Regions from separate parts of the Homo sapiens genome. Here regions 1 and 3 are each linked to region 2. Evidence: fine-mapped expression QTL. A gene starts in region 2. Each other region holds a variant in brackets. All regions are shown on one strand. Distances are from middle to middle.

Region 1 (7,680 bases), 130 kb before region 2:
CTTCCTGGGCTCAAGCAATTCTCCTGCCTCAGCCTCCTGAGTAGCTGCGATTACAGGCGCTGCACCACGCCTGGCTAATTTTTGCATTTTTAGTAGAGACAGGTTTCACCATGTTGGTCAGGCTGGTCTCGAACTCCTGACCTCAAGTGATCTGCCTACCTTGGCCTCCCAAAGTGCTGGGATTGCAAGCTTAAGCCACCACCCCTGGCCAAATTATGTTTTTTTGTTTGCCTTTTTAGTGGCTGCCCTTGAGATTGCAATAAACATTTACAACGAATCCAAGTCTTCTTTCAAATAATACTCTACCCCTTCACAGGTAGTGCAAGTACCTAACCACTGAGTATTCATAATTCTTCTCTTTCATATCTTAATAACATTGCTGTCATTTTCACTTATCCATAAGCTACAATCATTGGATACTTTGTAGCTTTTTGTTTTGAACAAACTGTTATGTTATATCAATTGAGAATAAGAAAAATAAGAGATTTTACTTTATCTTCATGAGTTCCTTCTGTAATACTCATTATTTATGTAGATCTGAGTTTCTGATTGTATTAGTCCATTTTCATACTGCTATAAAGAAGTGCCCAACACTGGGTAATTTATAAAGGAAAGAGGTTTAATTGACTCACAATTCAGCATGGCTGGGGAGGCATCAGGAAACTGATAATCATGGCAGAAGGCAAAGGGGGAAGCAAGGCACCTTCTTCACAAGGCGTCCGGAAGTAGAAGTGCCAAGCAAAGGGGGAAGAACTCTATAAAACCATCAGATCTCGTGAGAACTCACTCACTGTCATGAGAACAACATGGGGGAAACAGCCCCTATGATTCAATTATCTCCATCCGGTCTTTCCCTTGACATGTAGGGATTATGGGGATTACAATTCACGATGAGATTTGAGTAGGGGGACACAAAGCCTAATCATATCATTTTGCCCCTGGCCCCTCCCAAATCTCATGTCCCTTTCATATTTCAAAACCAATCATGCCTTCCAAACAGTCCTCCAAAGTCTTTGTTCATTCTAGGATTAACCCAAAAGTCCAAGTTCAAAGTCTCATCTAAGACAAGGGAAGTCCCTTCCGCTTATGAGCCTGTAAAGTCAAAAGCAAATTAGGTACTTCCTAGACACAATGGGGGTACAGGCATTGGGTAAATACACCCATTTCAAATAGGAGACATTGGCCAAAACAAAAGGATGACAGGCCCCATGCAGGCCTGAAATCCAGCAGGACAGTCAAACCTTAAAGCTCTGAAATGACCTCCTTTGACTCCATGTTTCACATCCAGATCATGCTGATGAAACAGGCCTCCTCTCAGCTGCTTTCATGGGCTGGCATGGAGTGTCTGTGGCTTTTCTGGGTACATGGTGCAAGCAGTCAGTGGACCTACCATCCTGGGGTCTGGAGGGCAGTGGCCCTGTTCTCACAGCTCCACTAGGCAGTGCCCCAGTGGGGACTCTGTCAGGGCTCTGACCCTATATTTCCCTTTTGCACTGCCCTAGCAGAGGTTCTCTATGAAGGCCTTGCCCCTGCAGCAAACTTCTGCCTGGTCATCCAGGCATTTCCATACATCCTCTAAAATCTAGGTGGAGGCTCCCAAACCTCAATTTTGTTTTTGTTTTTGAGACAGAGTCTCACTCTGTTGCCCAGGCTGGAGTGCAGTGGTGCAATCTTGGCTCACTGCAACCTCCACTTCCCAGGTTCAAGTGATTCTCCCATCTCAGCCTCCCAAGTAGCTGGGACTACAGGCACACACCATCATACCCAGCTAATTTTTGTATTTTTAGTAGAGACGGAGTTTCACTATGTTTGCCAGGCTGGTCTCGAACTTTTGACCTTATGTGATCCATCCCCCTTGGCCTCCCAAAGTGCTGGGATTACAGGCATGAGCCACTGTGCCTGGCCCCAAACCTCAATTCTTGACTTCTGTGCACCTGCAGGCCCGACAACACATGTAAGCCATCAAGGCCTGGGGCTTGCATCCTGTGAAGCCATGGCCCGAGCTGTGCCTTGGCCCTTTTTAGCCACAGCTGGGATGCAGGGCACCAACTCCCAGGACTGCATAAAGCAACAAGACCCTGGGCCCAGCCCATGAAGCCATTTTTTCCTTCTAGGCCTCTAGGCCTGTGATGGGAGGAGCTGCTGTGAACACCTCTGACATGTCCTGGAGACATTTTCCCCATTGTCTTGGTTATTAACATTTGGCTCCTTGTCACTTATGCATACTTCTGAAGCCGGTTTGAATTTCTCCTCAGAAAATGGGTTTTTCTTTTCTATTGCATCATCAGGCTGCAAATTATCCAAACGTGTATGCTCTGCTTCTCTTTCAAACATGAAGTTCCAATTCCAAACCATCTCTTTGGGAATGCATAAAATCAAACACTTTTAACAGCACCCAGGTCACCTCTTGAATACTTTGCTGCTTAGAAATTTCTTCCATTGGATACCTTAAATCATCTCTCTCAAGTTCAAAATTCCACAGATCTCCAGGCCAGGGGCAAAATGCCACCAGTCTCTTTGCTAAAGCATAGCAAGAGTCACCTTTATTCTAGTTCCCAACAAGTTCCTCATCTCCATCTGAGACCACCTCAGGCTGGACTTCATTGTCCATATCACTATCAGCATTTTGGTCAAAGCTATTTAATAAATCTCTAGGAAGTTTTAAAGTTTCCCACATCCTTCTGTCATCTTCTGAGCCCTCTTAACTGTTCCAACCTCTGCCTGTTACCCAGTTCCAAAGTTGCTTCCACATTTTCAGTATCTTTATAGCAGCACCCCACTTCTGGTAACAATTTACTGTATTAGTCCGTTTTTATACTGCTATAAAGAACTGCCTAAGACTGGGTAATTTATAAAGGAAAGAGGTTTAATTGACTCACAGTTCAGCACGATTGGGGAGGCTTCAGGAAACTTACAATCATGGCAGAAGGCAAAGGGGAAGCAAGGTGCCTTCTTCACAAGGAGGCAGAAAGGAGAAGTGCTGAGCAAAGGGGGAAGAGCCCCTTATAAAATTATCAGCTCATGAGAATTCACTATCATGAGAATAGCATGGGGGAAACTGCCCCCATGATTCATTTATTTCCATCTGGTCTCTCCCTTGACATGAGGAGATAATGGGGCTTACAATTCGAGATGAGATTTGGGCGGGGATACAAAGTCTAACCATATCACTGATGTATACTATTTTCTTTCTTTCTGAGGAATTTCAACATTTCTTGCAAGGTATGTCAATTGTGACAAGTTTTCTCAATTTTGTTTGTCTGTGAAAGTCTTTATTTCTCCTTTACTTTTCAAGGATAATATTTCTGGGTATAGGATTCTGGTGGTGGTGTTTGTTGTTGTTTCTGTCAACACTTAAAATATTTTGCTCCAAGCTCTTCTTACTTGCGTGGCCTATGAAGAGAACTCTGATTAATTATTATACTTGCTCCTCATAGGTACAGTGTTTTCTTCCCTTTGACTTAATTCAAAATTGTCTCTTTGTCTTTGATTATCTGTGGTTTGAATATGCTATATCTAGGTGTAAATTTTTTTGGTATTTATCCTCTTTGATTTCCTGAGCTTCTGAATCTGGGGTTTGGTGTCTGTCATTCATTTTGGAAAATTCTCAGTCATTATTACTTCAAATATTTTTTCTGTTTCTTTTTTTTCTTGTTTTGATATTCATTATGCATATGTCACACCATTTAAAATTGTCCCACAGTTATTGGATGTTCTGTTCTGCTTTTTAAAATTATTTTTTCTCTTACCATTTAGTTTTTGAAGTTTCTATTGACATGTCTTCAAGCTCAGTGATTCTTTCTTTGGCTGTGTCCAGTCTATTTTTTTTTTTTTT[A/TTTA]ACTTTTTTTGAGATGGAATCCTGCTCTGTCACCCAGGCTAGAGTGCAATAGCATGATCACAGCTCACTGCAACATCTGCCTCCCAGGTTCAAGTGATTCTCCTGCCTCAGCCTCCTGAGTAGCTGGGATTACAGGCATGTGCCACCATGTCCAGCTTACGTTTGTATTTTTAGTAGAGGCAGGGTTTCACTATGTTGGCCAGGCTGGTCTCAAACTCCTGACCTCAGGTGATCTGGCCACCACAGCCTCCCAAGGTGCTGGGATTACAGACATGAGCCACTGCGCCCGGCCATGTGTCCAGTCTATTTAAAAGCCCATCAAATGCATTATTTCCATGACAGTGTTCTTTATTTCTAGCGTTTCTTTCCTTTTGATTCTTCCTTATTGTTTCCATCACTATGCTTGCAGTATCCATCTCTCATTGCATATGGTTCATTTTTTCTATTAGAGCTCTTAGCATATTAATTATAGTGTTTTTAAATTCACAGTCTGATAATCCCAACATCTTTGCCACATCTGAATCTTGTTTTGATGGTTACCTTGTTTCTTTAAAACATTTTTTGTCTTATAGGATGCCTTGTAATTTTTTGTTGGAAGCCAGACATTAGGTACTGAGAAAAAGAACCTAGGCAAATAGGCCTTTGGTATGATGCTTTATGTGTATTTGACAAAGAGTTAAGCTGTTTTGATTATTTGATGTACCTGTATGTTTCAGAGATATTAAAAGTTCCTCTAATGTTAGTTTTGTCTCCTCTGTTGCACAGAAGCCCTGTTGATGTGCTGGTAAGATGTGGGGGCAGAACAAACCTTCTCTAGTTCTTTGATTAAATCTCAGTCTTTTAATGAGCCTGTGTTCCTGTGCTGTGACCTTCACAAGTACTTCTCAGTGTCTCCCCCTTTGTTGGGACAGGATAGCTAGAAGGGACTAGACTAGGATATTTCCCTTTCCCCAGGACAATTAGCGTTAGTAAAACCTCAGTTAAGCTCTGGTAAACTCATTTCTCTTGAGGGCAGGCTTTATTAACAATAGAATGCCCTGGCTTATTTCACCCTCCCCACTGACAGAAATACCAAGGGATTTTTCTCTTCACCTTGATGACCTGGTAAGCCTTCTGGAAGTAAAACTCAGACAAGTGTTGGGGCCCCCCTAAGACTGGGCTCCCTGGAGTTTTTAACTCTCAAGCAGTCCAAACAGAGCCTCTAGCAATTCAGCAATTGCAGTTTAAGTTTTCCTACCCTGGTACTGGTTCCCATAAAGGTTTCTGCTCTTGAGCTTCCACTCAAGTAGTGAATCAAGTCATGATTCTTTGTATCTGCCATCTGTCTCTCCAATTTGTAAGACAGTAATTTACCCTATGACCTCAATTATCTGCAGGATCTAAGAAGAGCAGTTGATTTTCAGCTTGTCAAACTTCTTTCTTGTTGTTAGGGTGGGAATGACGACTCCCAAACTTTTTACACGCCAGACTGAAAACTGGAAGTCTGGTTGTCTTTCTTTCTTTCTTTCTTCTCCTTCCTTCCTTCCTTCCTTTCTTCCTTCCTTCCTTCCTTCCTCTCTTTCTCCTTCCTTTCTTCCTTCCTTCCTCCCGCCCTCCTTTCTTTCTTTGTTCCTTCCTTCCTTCCTTCCTTCCTTCCTTCCTTCCTTCTTTCTTTCTTTCTTTCTTTTTTTCTTTCTTTCTTTCTTTTTCTTTCTTTCTTTTTTCTCTCTCTCTCTCGGAGTCTTGCATTGTCGCCCCAGCTGGAGTGTCATGGCACAATCTCAGCTCACTGCAACCTCTGCCTCCCGGGTTCAAGTGATTCTCCTGCCTCAGCCTCCTGAGTAGTTGGGATTACAGGCACGCACCACCATGCCCTGCTAATTTTCTTTTCTTTTTTTTTTTTTTTAGTGGAGACAAGGTTTCACTATGTTGGCTAGTTTGGTCTCGAACTCCTGACCTCGTGATCCGCCAGCCTCGGCCTCCCAAAGTGCTGGGATTGCAGGCATGAAGCACTGTACCTGGCCCAGAAGCACAAAAGTTTTAAATTGTAGTGAGCTCCAACTTACCTACTTTTTCTTTTCTTTCTTTCCTTTTTTTTTTTTTTTTTGAGACAGAGTCTTGCTCTGTCGTCCAGGCTGGAGTGCAGTGGTGCGATCTCAGCTCACTGCAACATCTGCCTCCTGGGTTCAAGCAATTCTTGTGCCTCAGCCTCTCAAGTAGCTGGGATTGCAGGCACCCGCCACCACGCCCGGCTAATTTTTGTATTTTTAGTAGAGATGGTGTTTCGCCATGTTGGCCAGACTGGTCTTGAACTCCTGACCTCAAGTGATCCACTCGCCTTGGCCTCCCAAATTGTTGGGATGACAGGCGTGAGCCACTGCGCCTACCTAGCCTTTCTTTTCTTGTACTTGCATTAAGTGTCTTACCTAAGAAACCATTGTGTAATCCAAGGTCACAAACATTTACTCTTACATTTTCTTCTAAGGATTTTATAGTTTTGTCTCTTATATTTAGGCCTTTGGTCTATTTTGAGTTAATTTTTATATATGGTATGAGGTAGAAGCCCAGCTTCATTCTTTTGCATGTGGATATCCAGTCGTCCCAGTACCATTTGTTGAAAAGACTATTCTTTCTCCATTTAACTGTGTTGGCATCTTTGTCAAAAATGAAATTGGGCCAGGTGTGGTGGCTTACACCTGTAATCTTAGCACTTTGGGAGGCCAAGACGGGAGGATCGCTTGAGGCTAGGAGTTTGAGACCAGCCTGGTCAACATAGCAAGACCTCATCTCTAAAAAGTAAGTAAGTAAATAAGTAAATAAATAAATAAAAGAAATTGACCATAAAAGAAATTGATCATAGATCTATGGGGTTATTTCTGGACTCTCAATTCTATTCCTCTGATGTAGATGTCTATCTGCATGCCAGTACCATGTCATCTGGAGTATTGTAGCTATGACGCAAGTTTTAGTAAGTTTTGAAATGAGGATGTATGAGTCCTTCAACTTTGTTCTTCCTTTTTTTTTGTTTTGTGACGGAGTCTCACACTGTTGCCCAGGCTAGAGTGCAGTGGCGCGATCTCGGCTCAAGGGCTCACTGCAATTCTGCCTCCTGGGTTCACGCCATTTTCCTGCCCCAGCCTCCCAAGTAGCTGGGACTACAGGCGCCCACCAACACACCCGGCTAATTTTTTGTATTTTCTTTTTTAGTAGAGACGGAGTCTCACTGTGTTAGCCAGGATGGTCTCAATCTCCTGACCTCGTGATCCGCCTGCCTCGGCCTCCCAAAGTGTTGGGATTACAGGCGTGAGCCACCACGCCCGGCCTTGTTCTTCCTTTTCAAGAATGTTTTTGGCTATTCTGGGTCCCTCGCATTGCCATACATATTTTATAATCAAATTGCCAATTACTGCAAAAAGGGCAGCTGGAATTTTGATAGGGATTACATTGTAAGAGTATATCAATTTGAGGAGCATTAGTAAGATTAGTAAGATTAGGTCTCCCAATTCATGTACTAAATGAGATGTCTTTCCATTAATGTAGGTCTTAAATATTTCTTTCAGCAATGTTTCATGGCTTTCAAAGTCTAAGTCTTGTACTTCTTTTGTTAAATTTATTCTTAAGTAAGTGTGTTATTTTTTTGATGCTATTGTAAGTGAAGTTATTTTCTTCATTTCATTTCCAGATTGTTCGTTGCTAGTAGGTAGAGATACAACCAGCATTGTTTATTGACCATGTGTCCTGCAGCTTTGCTGAACTTGTTTATTAGCTCTAATAGCATTTTATGTGTGTTTGTGGGTGGTTCTTACAATTTTATACATACAAGATTATGTTGTTTGCAAAACTGAAGTTTTACTTCTTCCTTTTCA
Region 2 (7,301 bases):
ACTCAGAAGCAACCAAGATGTTCTGCAATAGGTGAGTGGGTAAATAAAGTGTGGTGCATCCAGAAAAGGGAACATTACTCAGTGCCAGAGGAAATGATCAAGCCATGAAGAGACATGGAGGAAACTTAGATGCATATTGCTAAGTGAAAGAAGCCAGTCTGAAAAGGCTACAAACTGTATGGTTCCAATAATACGGCATTTATTCTAGAAAAGGCTAAACTATGGAGACAGCAAAAAGATCAGTGGTTGCCAGGGGCTGGGGGGTGGAGGGAGGGATGAACAGGCAGAGCACAGAGGATTCTTAGGGCAGCGAAACTGTTCTATATGATACTCTAACAGTAGACACGTACCATTGTACACTTGCCCAGACCCATAGAACGTACAAGCCAAGAGTGAGTTCTCACATAAACTATGAACTATGGGGGATAATGATGCAACAACGGAGGTGCCTCAGTTGTAACAAATGTCCCACTGTGCTGGGGATGTTGATAGTGAGGGGGGTTGTGCATGTGTGGGGCAAAGGTTATGGGAAATCTCTGTACCTTCTGCTTACTTTTGCTCTGAACCTAAAAGTGTTCTAAAAGCCTGGCCAACACGGTGAAACCCCATCTCTACTAAAAATACAAAAATTAGCTGGGTGTGGTGTTGGGCGCCTGTAATCCCAGCTACTCGGGAGGCTGAGGCAGGAGAATCACTTGAACCCGAGAGGCAGAGGTTGCAGTGAGCTGAGATCGAGCCATTGCACTCCAGCCTGGGGTACAAGAGCGAGACTTCGTCTCAAAAAAAAAAAAATAAAAATAAAGTCTATTTAAAACAAACAAGCAAACAAACACAGAAACATGGCTTCTCCAGCCCTCACCGTTTGGATGCACGGCACACTCCCTCTGCCTGTGTGCTTTATCTTTCTATTCTGCCACACTGAGGTTTCCCAACTATTGCCCCAGGGGACATTGTCCTCATTTCAATTTGTATTTTTAATAGCACTTCTTTCTGATGACAAAAAGAGTACATGTACAAAGTTTGGAAAATAAAAAGAAAAAGAAGTAGGAGAAAAAAACCCCACCCCGAATTGCTCCACCTGGAGATATCAATCACGTTTTGGATCGCGGCTGGCACGATACTGTTTACATTAAACTGTATTATCCTGTTAACATCACATTTCCCTATCATGAGAAACTTCAAGAACATATTCTTTTGGTAAACATTTCATACATGGCCATACTATAGTTTAGTTAATCATTCGGCATTCAGGTGGTGATATTTAGATGTGTTCAGTTTTGCATTATTATAAATAATGTGATGAACATCTGTGTGGTGAAAGCTTTGCCAAATTTTTGAATTAAATCATAGACTTGGAATTATAGGGTGGAAGAATATGGATATTTTGGTTATTCTTATTCTATTACAAGATTGCTTTCTAGAAATTCTGTTATCTGTTTACACTCTCAGAAGTAGAATGTGAGTTTCTGTCTCTATGGTTTTATTAAGTAACATAATTTAAAAAATAATTTGTTGATTTGATGAAAATGAAAACAGAAATGGTATTTCATTGATTTAATGAACCTTTCTTTTTGTCTGGTAAGTCTGACTTTCGAAAACCTATTTATTAATTATTTGAATATCCAATTTTATAAATTGTCTACTATATATTGGGGTTTTAATGTTTTTCTTATGAATTTGTAAGAGTTCTATTTTATTGCCAAAAAAATTTTCCCTAGTTTCTTACAGTTTAATTTTTATGTCAAACTTATTTTCAAAATGGGAATAACTCTTTTCCTGGTAATTAAAATAACGGGCTGTCATGGTAAAAAAAAATAACATACTATAGAAAATTATACAGAAAAAAGTAAAAATCTACATTCTACCCCTTGAACTTGTACTAACATTTTTAGATCATTTCCTCCCAAACTTTTATCCTATGTTTTTATGGTATTTTCTGAAGTTTAAGAATTCTAATTTTTATGTACCTCAAAGCAAGCATTTTAAAATTTCAATATATTCTCCAGTGCTTTTGTGTTTAGAAATATCTTTTTAATCTAGCGATCTGATAAAAAATCACCTCTAAAAAAACAGAGCTGTGATTCTTTTTTTTTTTGAGATGGAGTTTTGCTCTCGTTGCCTAGGCTGGAGTGCAATGGTGCGATCTCGGCTCACCGCAACCTCTGCCTCCTAGGTTCAAGTGATTCTCCTGCCTCAGTCTTCCGAGTAGCTGGGCTTACAGGCATGCACCACAACGCCCGGCTAATTTTGTATTTTTAGTAGAGACAGGGTTTCTCCATGTTGGTTAGGCTGGTCTCGAACTCCCAACCTCAAGTGATCCGCCTGCCTTGGCCTCCCAAAGTGCTGGGATTATAGGCAAGGCATTATGTCATATTATAGAATATTAAGGAAATTAAGGGGGAAAGAAGTCAGCCTTAATGCCTGGACCCTAACACATCTGCTTCCTTTATGCATTGTTCTTTCAAGACATTGATCATGAGCTTTTAATTTATTTTAATTTATTTTTATATGGTTGCAAGTACAATTTCCTATCTTTTCCTTTCCTTCATAATTATGCCCTAAGCATTATTTTCTTGTTGCTACGTAGTCTCGGTAATGGTTGTTTTAAATGATTCCCAATGGCCCCTCCTGTGGCTGTGCTGTCACAGCTGACCCCATCCCTCTAATGAACACTTCCGTTGCTTCCAATTTTTCTGTCAAGCGATATTTAGAAACACCAGAGTCCAGTGAAGCAGAATCTCCCACTGTTCCCTGGGGGCTGACTGTAATGCAATTTGACTTTGCTCATTTCCTCCTTTCCTCAGAGGAGTGTTGGAAGAAATCACTTTTAGAGAATGGTTAGAAAAACGACCAACAGAAAATGAGGAGGAAGGAGATCATGAGCTGAAAGCATGTTGAGCTTTTAGGAGGAAGCTGCTTTAGAAGCCCAGACTGTGTAGGTTTTGCTTTTGTGACTCACAAATCGGGCATGAGTTTATAATAATTTTGACAGATGCTTTTCACTCATGCAGCGCTTGGTGCTTTTGAGGGCATTGGTGCAGGAAGGCTTGATGCAGAATCTCTGCTTATCATTTGCTGTCTGTGTGACCTACATCAGCGGCGCCTCAGTCTGTCTTCCTGCAGAATAAGAATACAGTCAGCCCTCTGCATCTGTGGGTTGGGCATCCATGGATCCAACCAACTGTGGACTGAAAATATTTGGAAAAATACAATAAAAAGTAAGACTACAACAATAAAATAATATAAATAAAAAACAAGGCCGGGCACGGTGGCTCACACCTATAATCCCAGCACTTTGGGAGGCCAAGGCGGGAGGATCACGAGGTCAGGAGATGGAGACCATCTTGGCCAACATGGTGAAACTCCGTCTCTACTAAAAATACAAAAATTAGCTGGGCATGGTGGCACGTGCCTGTAGTCCCAGCTGCTCGGGGGGCTGAGGCAGGAGAATCACTTGAACCCGGGAGGCAGAGGTTGCAGTGAGCCCAGATTGCGCCACTGCACCCCAGACTGGCGACAGAGTGAGACTCTGTCTAAAAATAAATAAATAAATAAATAAAAAATACAGCGTTAACAACTATTTACATAGTATTTAAATTGTATTAGCTATTACAAGAATCTAGAGATAATTTAAAGTATTTTGGAGGATTTGTGTACGCTATATGCAGATACTGTGTCAATTCATATGAGGGACTTGAGCATCCCTGGATTTTGGTATCCACGGATGTGCTGGAACCAGTCCCCTGGGGGATACCGAGGGACATCATGATAATAGGCCCGGAAGAGGACAGACGAACACACTGGGCCATGGGGCAGCACTGAGCGGTGGTGGAAGAACCCCGAGTAGCCGGAGAAAGAGCAGGAGGGCCTTCCAGGGAAGAGGGAATGGCCTGTGTGAACCCAGGCTGAACCTCTCATTCCTGGGACTCGATTTCTCCATTTGTACAAACTGCTTGGTTTGTGGTCTGCAAGAGCCCTTCCTGTTCCTCCAGGAAGCCTCTCAGGGACCTCTGTCCCTGGCCAGCTCTGCTCCTCTGACCGCTGCGGGTCCTGCAGGCCATAGCCCTGGCTCCTGTGTGTGCACCAGACACGTCTAGGCCTCTTCAGCGGGACCTATCTCTCTGCTCAACTCAATCAACAGTTCTTTAGAAATTTCCAGGGGCAGCAAAGTGCTGTAGCCCCTGACATGTTTTAGGGCTGAATGGGGGTGGGTATCAGCAGACTCAATACGTATTTATTAACTTAAAAGAAGTGTCATTGGTCTATTGGCAAAGCTGGTTAGCAATAACCTTATCTTCTCCAGGAATAATGATCACTAATCATTCCTTCCTGCTGGGGGTAGGAGACAACCCGGCGTATGGTGGTGGAGCACCTGGGAGACAGAGGCAGAGATCTCGTTCCTCGATCCCGGCGCGTTGGTTGTAAAGTAGGAACAGTAATAGCACCTACCTCTAGGGCCACGGAGACCGAATGAAATAATGCCTGTCAAGTCACTTAGTACACAGTAAGCACTCAGTAATGCTAGGTTGTTGTTATTATAATAAATTTTTAGCGAACGGGAAGACCAAGCACCGGTTGGTACTGGGCTAGGCGCCGTAGGCAAAGATGTGGAGATGTCCCGGAGGCGCCTAGGGTATCCGGGCGAAAACCCGAGGGCCGAAGGCTGGGAGGAGGCGGAGCGTCGGGCACCGGGCACCGGGCACCGGGCGGGAGGTGAGCCCCTGGAAAAGGAGGGGGCTCCGGGCGCGTTCTCCCAGCAGCCGCGGCTCCTCTGTTCAGGGCCGCGCCCCCTTCGCCGCACTTTCTCTTTGATTTCGAAAGCACTCCTCTCCTCCACCTAGTCTCCTTTCCTGGGTTGCAGGAGATTACTGCTTGCGGGGAAGACCAAGACGCCAGGCCGGCGGATTAGTCCCCGCCCCGGGGCGGTGCAGCTGGAGCGTCAGGGGAGTCCCGCTCGCCGCAGCCCCAGCGCCGCGCGCGCCCCTCCCTCCTCGCGGACCTGGCGGTGCCGGCGCCCGGAGTGGCCCTTTAAAAGGCAGCTTATTGTCCGGAGGGGGCGGGCGGGGGGCGCCGACCGCGGCCTGAGGCCCGGCCCCTCCCCTCTCCCTCCCTCTGTCCCCGCGTCGCTCGCTGGCTAGCTCGCTGGCTCGCTCGCCCGTCCGGCGCACGCTCCGCCTCCGTCAGTTGGCTCCGCTGTCGGGTGCGCGGCGTGGAGCGGCAGCCGGTCTGGACGCGCGGCCGGGGCTGGGGGCTGGGAGCGCGGCGCGCAAGATCTCCCCGCGCGAGAGCGGCCCCTGCCACCGGGCGAGGCCTGCGCCGCGATGGCAGAGATGGGCAGTAAAGGGGTGACGGCGGGAAAGATCGCCAGCAACGTGCAGAAGAAGCTCACCCGCGCGCAGGAGAAGGTGAGCGAGCCGGAGCCCCAGCAGCCGCGGAGTCCCAGCCGCCGCGGAGCCCCGGCCACCTGTCCCCCTATCCTCCGACCCCGGGGCCTGGTCCTTCGCCAGGATCTGGTGCTGTCACCTCTAGAGGAGCGCTTTCGAGGGGCTTCGAGGTCCCCAGGCTGCGTTCCCCGGCGCTCTGGGTGCCCTCTTAGGTTTGCGTCCTCTGTCTCCCCACACCCGGCCGGGGCAGGACAGGGCCCCGCTTTGCACCTTCGTGGCTCGGCTGCACAGCAGTGGCCGGCCCTGCTCCAGGCTCTTCTCAGGCGCGCGCTCCAGGCTACCCCGCTTTGGAGGCCAAGGGCCGGGAGGCTGGGAGGCCAGGTGGTGACCCTCAGCTCTCCAGGCCCATGCAGGCAACCTAGGCTGGGCCGGCGCTCGGGGCGAGAGGGAGTATGTCCCTCTGCCCCTGGGGACACTATTCCCCCGGACTCCCAAGGCTGCTTCTCGAACCGGCACCCACAGTTCCTTCCTTCCCACTGCTTCTCCACTTTCGTTCTCCGTGGGCCGAAGGAGGGATTGGGTTTCCTTTCCCGAGAGGTGCCTGCGGCCTGGAAGCTCCCGCCCAGCCCGGCCCCACCGGGAGCCCAGGGCTACGCACCCCGCAAGGAGGTGCCCTCGCCCCAGCAGGGGCTTAGCGTTTCCGGCGGCCGGGGAGCGGGTGGCGGCACTGGCTTTGGGAGCCCACGGCCGGGTGGGGAGCTGGCCTGGAGGAGGCGCGTGGAAGGCGCCACAGGAAACCCGACCCCTCCTCGCGGAGAGCTGGAATGGGGGATGGAGCCGGGGCCTCCCAGGGTGCCCAGAGCGTGCAGGAAATGCAGAGATTGAGGGGCGGGGGTCTGCACCCGGTCAGTTGTCTATCCCAAGCCACCTCTGGTTTATTGAATTGGATCACGCCAGCTGCTGACGCCACTTCCCCTGACGACTCCAACTCTGAAATCTGAGATTGCAGAATCTGTGTTTCTGCCAGGGTGGCCCCCCAGTGCCCCGCGGCCAGGCCTGCCCCCTCTCCCACCCGCTGCGCGGCCGCCGGGTGGAGGCGCAGGGACAGGCCGGCCTTCCCCTGCCAGGCCTGGTGGCTGTTTATAAACAATGACTTTTGCTTCTGAGACCCGCGGGCTCCCTAAGGATGCAACCACGTGATTGCTGGGGGATGGGGGAGAGGGGGGCGCCTAGAGCTTCCCCATACCTCCCTCAGAGTCCTACTGCTCATCCCTGTGTTTCCTGGCTAAGGAGGTGGGTGGGTGTGCATTGAAGGAAGGGCCCTCAGCCAAGTCCAGGTTTGCCCAGACCCAGCTCCCCAACCCCCCACCCCAGGGAAGGAGGAGGAGGAGGAGGAGGAGGAGGAGGAGGAGGGATTAAAGCCCCAGGAATAGCTGGCTGGGGGCTGGGAAGACTTCAGGTTGTGGGGTGGGGGGGTGGCAGCACAGATGCAGCCACCCCTGCTCCGGGCTGCCATGACTGGGTAATCCATCTGTGTGCCTGGAGCAGGCAGCCCTGGGCCAGAGCCTGCTTCCTTCCCTAAAGGGCCAGGGAGATGAATGGGAAGGGAGGTTAGCTGAGCTGTGTTCCCTGCCCCCTTCCCACTGGTGTCCCACCCCTTCCTGGCTCCCCAAGGCTCTTGGTGTGTCTCCTTTGCCCTGGTTGTCTTTTCTCTGCAGCAGCATCTTTGATGTCATTCTCGGGGCAGTAGGCAAGGGCTGTGTCCCCTCCAAGGAGGTGGTGATGTATCACTGAGCTCCTGAGACACCATCCCTCTCTCTTGAGCCCCTGTTCTGTGGCCACGGGCAGTTGGCTGACAGTTGGTCAGCTAGGCATGCTGGTCTTGGCCAACAGCTGACCTTGCCCATGCCGGGCTTC
Region 3 (5,000 bases), 30 kb after region 2:
GCCCAGCCGGGTGAGCCCGAAGACCCGGCCCTCCTCACTGTGGCGGCTAGAGCTCCTGGCCCCTCCTGACTGGACGGTGTCAGGCTGTGTCCTGATTTGTTTGTGCTCACCTGCCATCTGTCACATAAGGACACTTCCCTTCTGAGGAGGCGGCCCTGGTGACTTGAAGTGCGTGCATGGTGGGTGGGTGCTGTACGTGGTGAGCTGCTCCTGGCTCAAACAAGACAGGCCTGGGCACCCTTCCTCCTTCTGGGTTCGGTGGCCGTGCACTGCCTGTGCCCCATGACTCACGCTGTGGGTCAGGGCCTTGCCTGCCATGCGGGGGCTGTTGGAGGGTGGCAGGACTCCCTGTACCCACAGGGAGCGGCTGACGCCAGGGCCTTCTGCCCTCTCACTGGGCCATGACAAAGGCCTTGGCGGAGGGCTGGGGAGGGGCACCCACCCACGGGATGCTCCCACTGAGCCCCTGTGGACCCGGGTGCCGGAGGCATGGCGTCAACTCAGTGAACCACCCAGCCTTTCTAGGGAGGAGCCTTGGGAGGGTTTCCTTCCACAGCCGAGGCCCAGCGAGGCTGAACCCTGTGGATGATTGCAGGAGGAGGTTCTGGAGCTGGCCACGGGTTCACACTTTGTCATTCCTGCCACCTGCCCCCCCTCCCTGCCCTGCCCTGGGGTGTCCCCTCCAAGGCACTTCAGCTCCACTCACATCTGGCCTTGGGTTGAGGACATGGTGAGAGGAAGCTCTGATAGGAGGTGATTGGGTGTGGCACTGATAAAGCTCCTGGGACTGTTGGCTCTGTGGCTGCCTCTGCCGCCTGGGCCTCTGTGTGTCTCGTCCGCCGCCAAGTTTTCAAAGGCTCCCCTTTGTTTATCACAGAGTGAGTGTGCGTGATAAGTGTGTGATGAGTGTAGGTGGAACTGATTGTCTAAGGGGCCCTCACCCAGTAACCCTGGACAGAGTGCAAATCCTGGCCTGTGCCGCCAGACCCTCCTCCTCACCCAACTCCTGCTCATCCTTCAAAACCCAGCACAACTGTCCTGCCCAGCTTTCCTTAGTCGCTGCTGGGCCAGCCCCTCCTGGACACCTGGAGTCCCCTGTGTCCCTCAGTGGTCTGCCTGTGAGCTCGGCACAGGGGAGGCCCCACTAACCAAGTGTGGAACGGATGGGGTGGGAGATCTGTGTCCCAGGGCTCACGGCCTTGTCCCAGCTCCTGTTCTGGGGCAGGGGGTGCCCAGATTGTTTTTCCCTGTGGTAGCCACACCAGGAGCTCCTTGAGGATGGGGACCCCAGGCCACTTGCCTGCGTTCCCTCATGGATGAAATGGGGGTAGGTGCAGTGAGGATGGCATGTGGCCAAGGCCAGCCTCGCCCATGGGTCTTCCCTGGGCCTCGGCCATGCTGTGGCCTTGTTATTCCTCCCATTTCCAAGGCGGGGGCACTGGAGCACTGAGAGCTTCAGCAGCCTGAGGTCTCGCAGAGTGGGGAGACTGGCTCAGCCTCAGGCTTGCTGTCACCCCTCAGGGCTGAGGGCTTTCTGTACATTACCCTTCCATTTTGTCTGGGAGGAGCCTGAGGCTGAGAGGTGGGTTGTTTTGTTTAGGGTCATGTCTCTGCCCTCAAAGCCCACAGCTCAGATGAGCAGCAGCCGCTGAGAATATCTTGTGTGTCTGTCCTGTGCTTAGCCCTGTGTGGGTGTTGGGGACACAGAGATGACTGGAACAGTGTCCCTGACCTCAAGCTGTTCCTTCAGGGTGAGGGTGTGAGGCACACAGGCACATCACATAGCAGTGAGGAAAGCTCTAAGTGGTACAGAGTGTTTTGAGGAAAGGAGAGATCAGGGACAGTTCACAGTGATGTCACCTGAGTGAGGTTTTGAAGGATGCATAGGAGTTTGCCATGTGCAGGTAGAGTGTGCGCGTCTGTGACTTCTGTCTCACATCTTGGGATGCCGTCAGCCTGGACCCGGTGTGAGGGCTGGCGGTGTCAGTCAGGCCCATCCCCCACCTGTGTGAAGGCTGCTCTGAAGGCCTTTTAGGGATTTGCCATTTCTTGAATATCATGGGCCAGGTACTGCTCTGCACTTTATAGACATGATCTTTGTAATCCTTGAGGAGGGTGCCAGTGTTCACTTCATTTTGTAGATTGAGGCTCAGAGAGTAGCTGTCCCTTTTCCCAAGGGTCTTCTCACTGCTGCGTGGAGTCTCACCTGGGCTGGTGTCTCGTTCTCAAGGCTGGAAGATCTCCCCAGTTCTCCAGCTGTCTGTGCAGAGCACACAGCAGTGTTTGGGAACTGGGTCGAGTGTGTGTCTGTCTCTGTACACCTCAGGAGCCCTGGTGGCCAGTGTGGGTGGGGAAGACTGGGGACCTTTTGCTGGCTGAGTGTGTCTGTCTTCCTGGGGAGAGGGAGGGCAGGGCGTGGAAGGGGCATCCTTCCTGGTGCTCTTGCCTTGGGAGCTGGGCAGTCCCTGCCCTGTTTCTGAGAGCTTCTGGCTCTCTCTGGTGGCTCTGGTAGACTTCTGGGAGTTCTTTTCTATGTGGTGGTCTATTCCTCTCTTTGGAGGGGGTGGGGCTGTGGGGTGGGTGCCTGAGCAGAGGGGCTGAGTCACCTACCCAAGCTCTTTGCAGAGCCGGGTGAGG[A/T]ACCTCCCCAGCTCAGCCCACTTTCTGGGGGGTCCCTTCTGGATGTGGCTGCCAGGGAGGGGCAGCAGTGGGGAGCCTGCAAGTTGTGCAGTGTACATTTTCTTGCTCATGTGGGGGTTTTGTTTTGGTTTTTCTCTCATCCCTGTGTCAGCCCTTGGCATCCAGCTGCAGTTGCCCAAGGGGCTGTGTCCCGACCGCTGTAGCACAACATCATCGGTGGCTGCCTCCCGGTGCCCACCTGCCCCCTGCTGCCACTCTCACTTTCCCACTCCATCCTCTGTGACCTCTAGTCACCTTGAGCAATTCAAAACTCCCCAGTAAGATGCTCCATCTTTCTGGTCTCCTTACCTTTGTTGCAACCTCTCCCCTCTGTCTGAGCTGCCACCCACTCCAGGAAGTCTCACTGACTGCCCAGGCTAGAAGAGATCTCTACCCCCAGGGTCCCACAGCCTTAAGTGTTCCCCCATGTCAGGACAGAGACCCACATCTGATTCCTCTCTGCTGTACCGGCCAAGGTGCCCAAGGCCAGGCACAGAGCAAGTGCTTGGTGAGAGATGGCCAAGAGCAGCTGGCCTTGCCAAGGCTTCTGGGCCTGGCTGGGGGGGGAAGTGCAGCAGGGCAGCACAGGACCTGCAAGGGCCGGCAGGGTGGGAAGGGTCCTGGCTGTGTCCTGGTACCAGGCATCCGTTGGTCCAGGACCGTGGCCTGGGCCCTGGGCCCCAAAGCTGATGTTCCTGGCAGCATGGGCTGGCTCCGGGTCTTGGAAGGGAGGGATGTCTGCAGACCTACTGGCCTCAGCAGATGCTGGGCTGGCCCTTTGCTCCTGGGGCTCCCCACCGCTCCTGGGCCCACCTTTTTCTCCCTTTGCTTTCCACTCCCATCCCCTACCCCCGTTTCCTTCTCATTCTTGTGAGGTCTTGCCCACTGCCTGGGAGAGGCCTCTGCTGAGACATCAGTGTTGGCCTTTCTGCCGCCCTGATGGAGGTGCCTCTTTGGCTGCAGACGGGTGTGTCCCGCCGCCACCCTGGTCTTCCCCTCTGCTCTCCTGCAAACCCATCTGGCACTCCTCATCCCTTTTCTGTGCCCCAGCTCTTTGTCTTTTTCTTCTCCTGCTCTTTCCTACCGTGCCCCACCACCGCTCCTTGCCTCTGTATTTTGTCTCCCTGCTCCCACCTCTCTCTCCGTCATGTGGAGCTCTGGGATTGGAGGAGCAGGGCCCAGAGAGGGAAGTCTGGGAGAGCGTGATGGTCAGCATATGTTCTCAGGGTCCTGGCCAGCGCCCTCCTTTCCTAGAGCTTTCCCCTCTCCTGGTGTGGCTCCTCTTCTCTGCCCTTGCCCACCCATCCTTCATCTCCCCCTGCCACTCATCGTGGGGGGTTGAGGGGGAGTCCACCTCTGAGACTCATGGTTGGGAGCAGAGCTGTGAGCTCATGTGTGTGCCCTTGTGTGTTTTGTGTGTGTGTGTGTGTGTGTGGGCTGTGCAGAGCAGAGTGCCTGGGGCAGGTCACATCTAAAAACCCAGTCAGATCAGAAGCAGACTCTGCGTGGCCCCCGGCAGCTCCTGGCCACCGCTCGCTGCCCTCCTTGTTCCGGGATGGCTCCTGCCGGTTCAGGGCCTGCTCTGCTGTTGCCTGTGGCATTCATGGGCCTGGGCCCAGGGAATAGAGTCATGCGGAGAAGTGAGGCTGCTCCTGCTTGGCCCCTCCCCTGCGTGGCTCACTTTTCAGCTTCCAGGGTGGGGGCGGAGCACCCAGGGGTGCAGTGTGAGATCAGCTAGGAGGGTGCCCGATCCTTCTTGCCATCTTTGAAGCCTCCCTCCTCCTGGCTGTGGTCACTACGTCAAGCCTGTCCTAAGCTCCATTTTTGGCCTATTGTCGAGCCCTGGGTAGAGGGTGGGGAGGCCTGAAAACCTGATGGACCCAGCCATGCCCTGGGATTGCAGCCCTGGGTGGGCACCCTGGGCTGGGTGATGTTGGCTAGAGACTTCCCAGCCCCTGGTCTGTGCTGTTGGTGACTGAGCACTCTTGGTTTGACCACTCTCCTTTCCAAGGTAACACTCTCCCCTTCTCTCTTGGCTTCGGCAGGTTCTCCAGAAGCTGGGGAAGGCAGATGAGACCAAGGATGAGCAGTTTGAGCAGTGCGTCCAGAATTTCAACAAGCAGCTGGTGAGTGTGGGTGGCCCTTGGCCTTAGGGAGTTTGTGAAAATTCGGCTGCCAGGTGAAAAATGGCACGAGCTGAATTTGTGGAGTACGAGAGCTTGGAGGAGGGTAATCAGTGTGGGCTGACAAGATCATGTAAGACTTCCTAGAGGAGGGAGCACTGGCAATGCATGCTGGGAAGGAAGAGGGATGGGGTATGTATG

Which allele goes with the higher level. Positions count from the first base shown, and alleles are read on the strand shown. Sizes are in standard deviations (SD) of each study's normalised expression. Not every link is listed here.
As copies of A replace TTTA in region 1, the expression in skeletal muscle of the gene that starts at base 5,111 in region 2 goes up (large effect, 0.88 SD a copy in FUSION).

The links. PIP is the estimated chance that this variant, and not a neighbour inherited with it, causes the effect. A credible set is the group of variants that fine-mapping cannot tell apart.
Region 1: its variant is the best candidate, but not a certain one, in a credible set for the expression of BIN1 in skeletal muscle (FUSION, PIP 0.65).
Region 3: its variant is the best candidate, but not a certain one, in a credible set for the expression of BIN1 in whole blood (TOPMed, PIP 0.61).

The regions. Positions count from the first base shown.
Region 1 is chr2:127,233,042-127,240,721 of GRCh38, reverse strand. No RefSeq gene overlaps it. Among named protein-coding and RNA genes, the nearest start is that of CYP27C1, 17 kb to the right of the region's middle. The variant A/TTTA (reference allele first, on the strand shown) is at 3,836.
Region 2 is chr2:127,104,964-127,112,264 of GRCh38, reverse strand. It overlaps BIN1 (bridging integrator 1), which reads left to right and starts at 5,111. Exons shown (of 19, transcript NM_139343.3): 1 at 5,111-5,405. The coding sequence starts at 5,322. LOC105373605 (a long non-coding RNA gene) reads right to left here and starts at 5,120. Exons shown (of 4, transcript XR_923311.4): 1 at 4,450-5,120. RefSeq lists silencers at 4,984-5,043, 4,878-5,172, 5,054-5,263.
Region 3 is chr2:127,076,428-127,081,427 of GRCh38, reverse strand. BIN1 (bridging integrator 1) reads left to right here. Exons shown (of 19, transcript NM_139343.3): 2 at 4,722-4,802. Among named protein-coding and RNA genes, the nearest start is that of BIN1, 28 kb to the left of the region's middle. RefSeq lists an enhancer at 194-423. The variant A/T (reference allele first, on the strand shown) is at 2,638.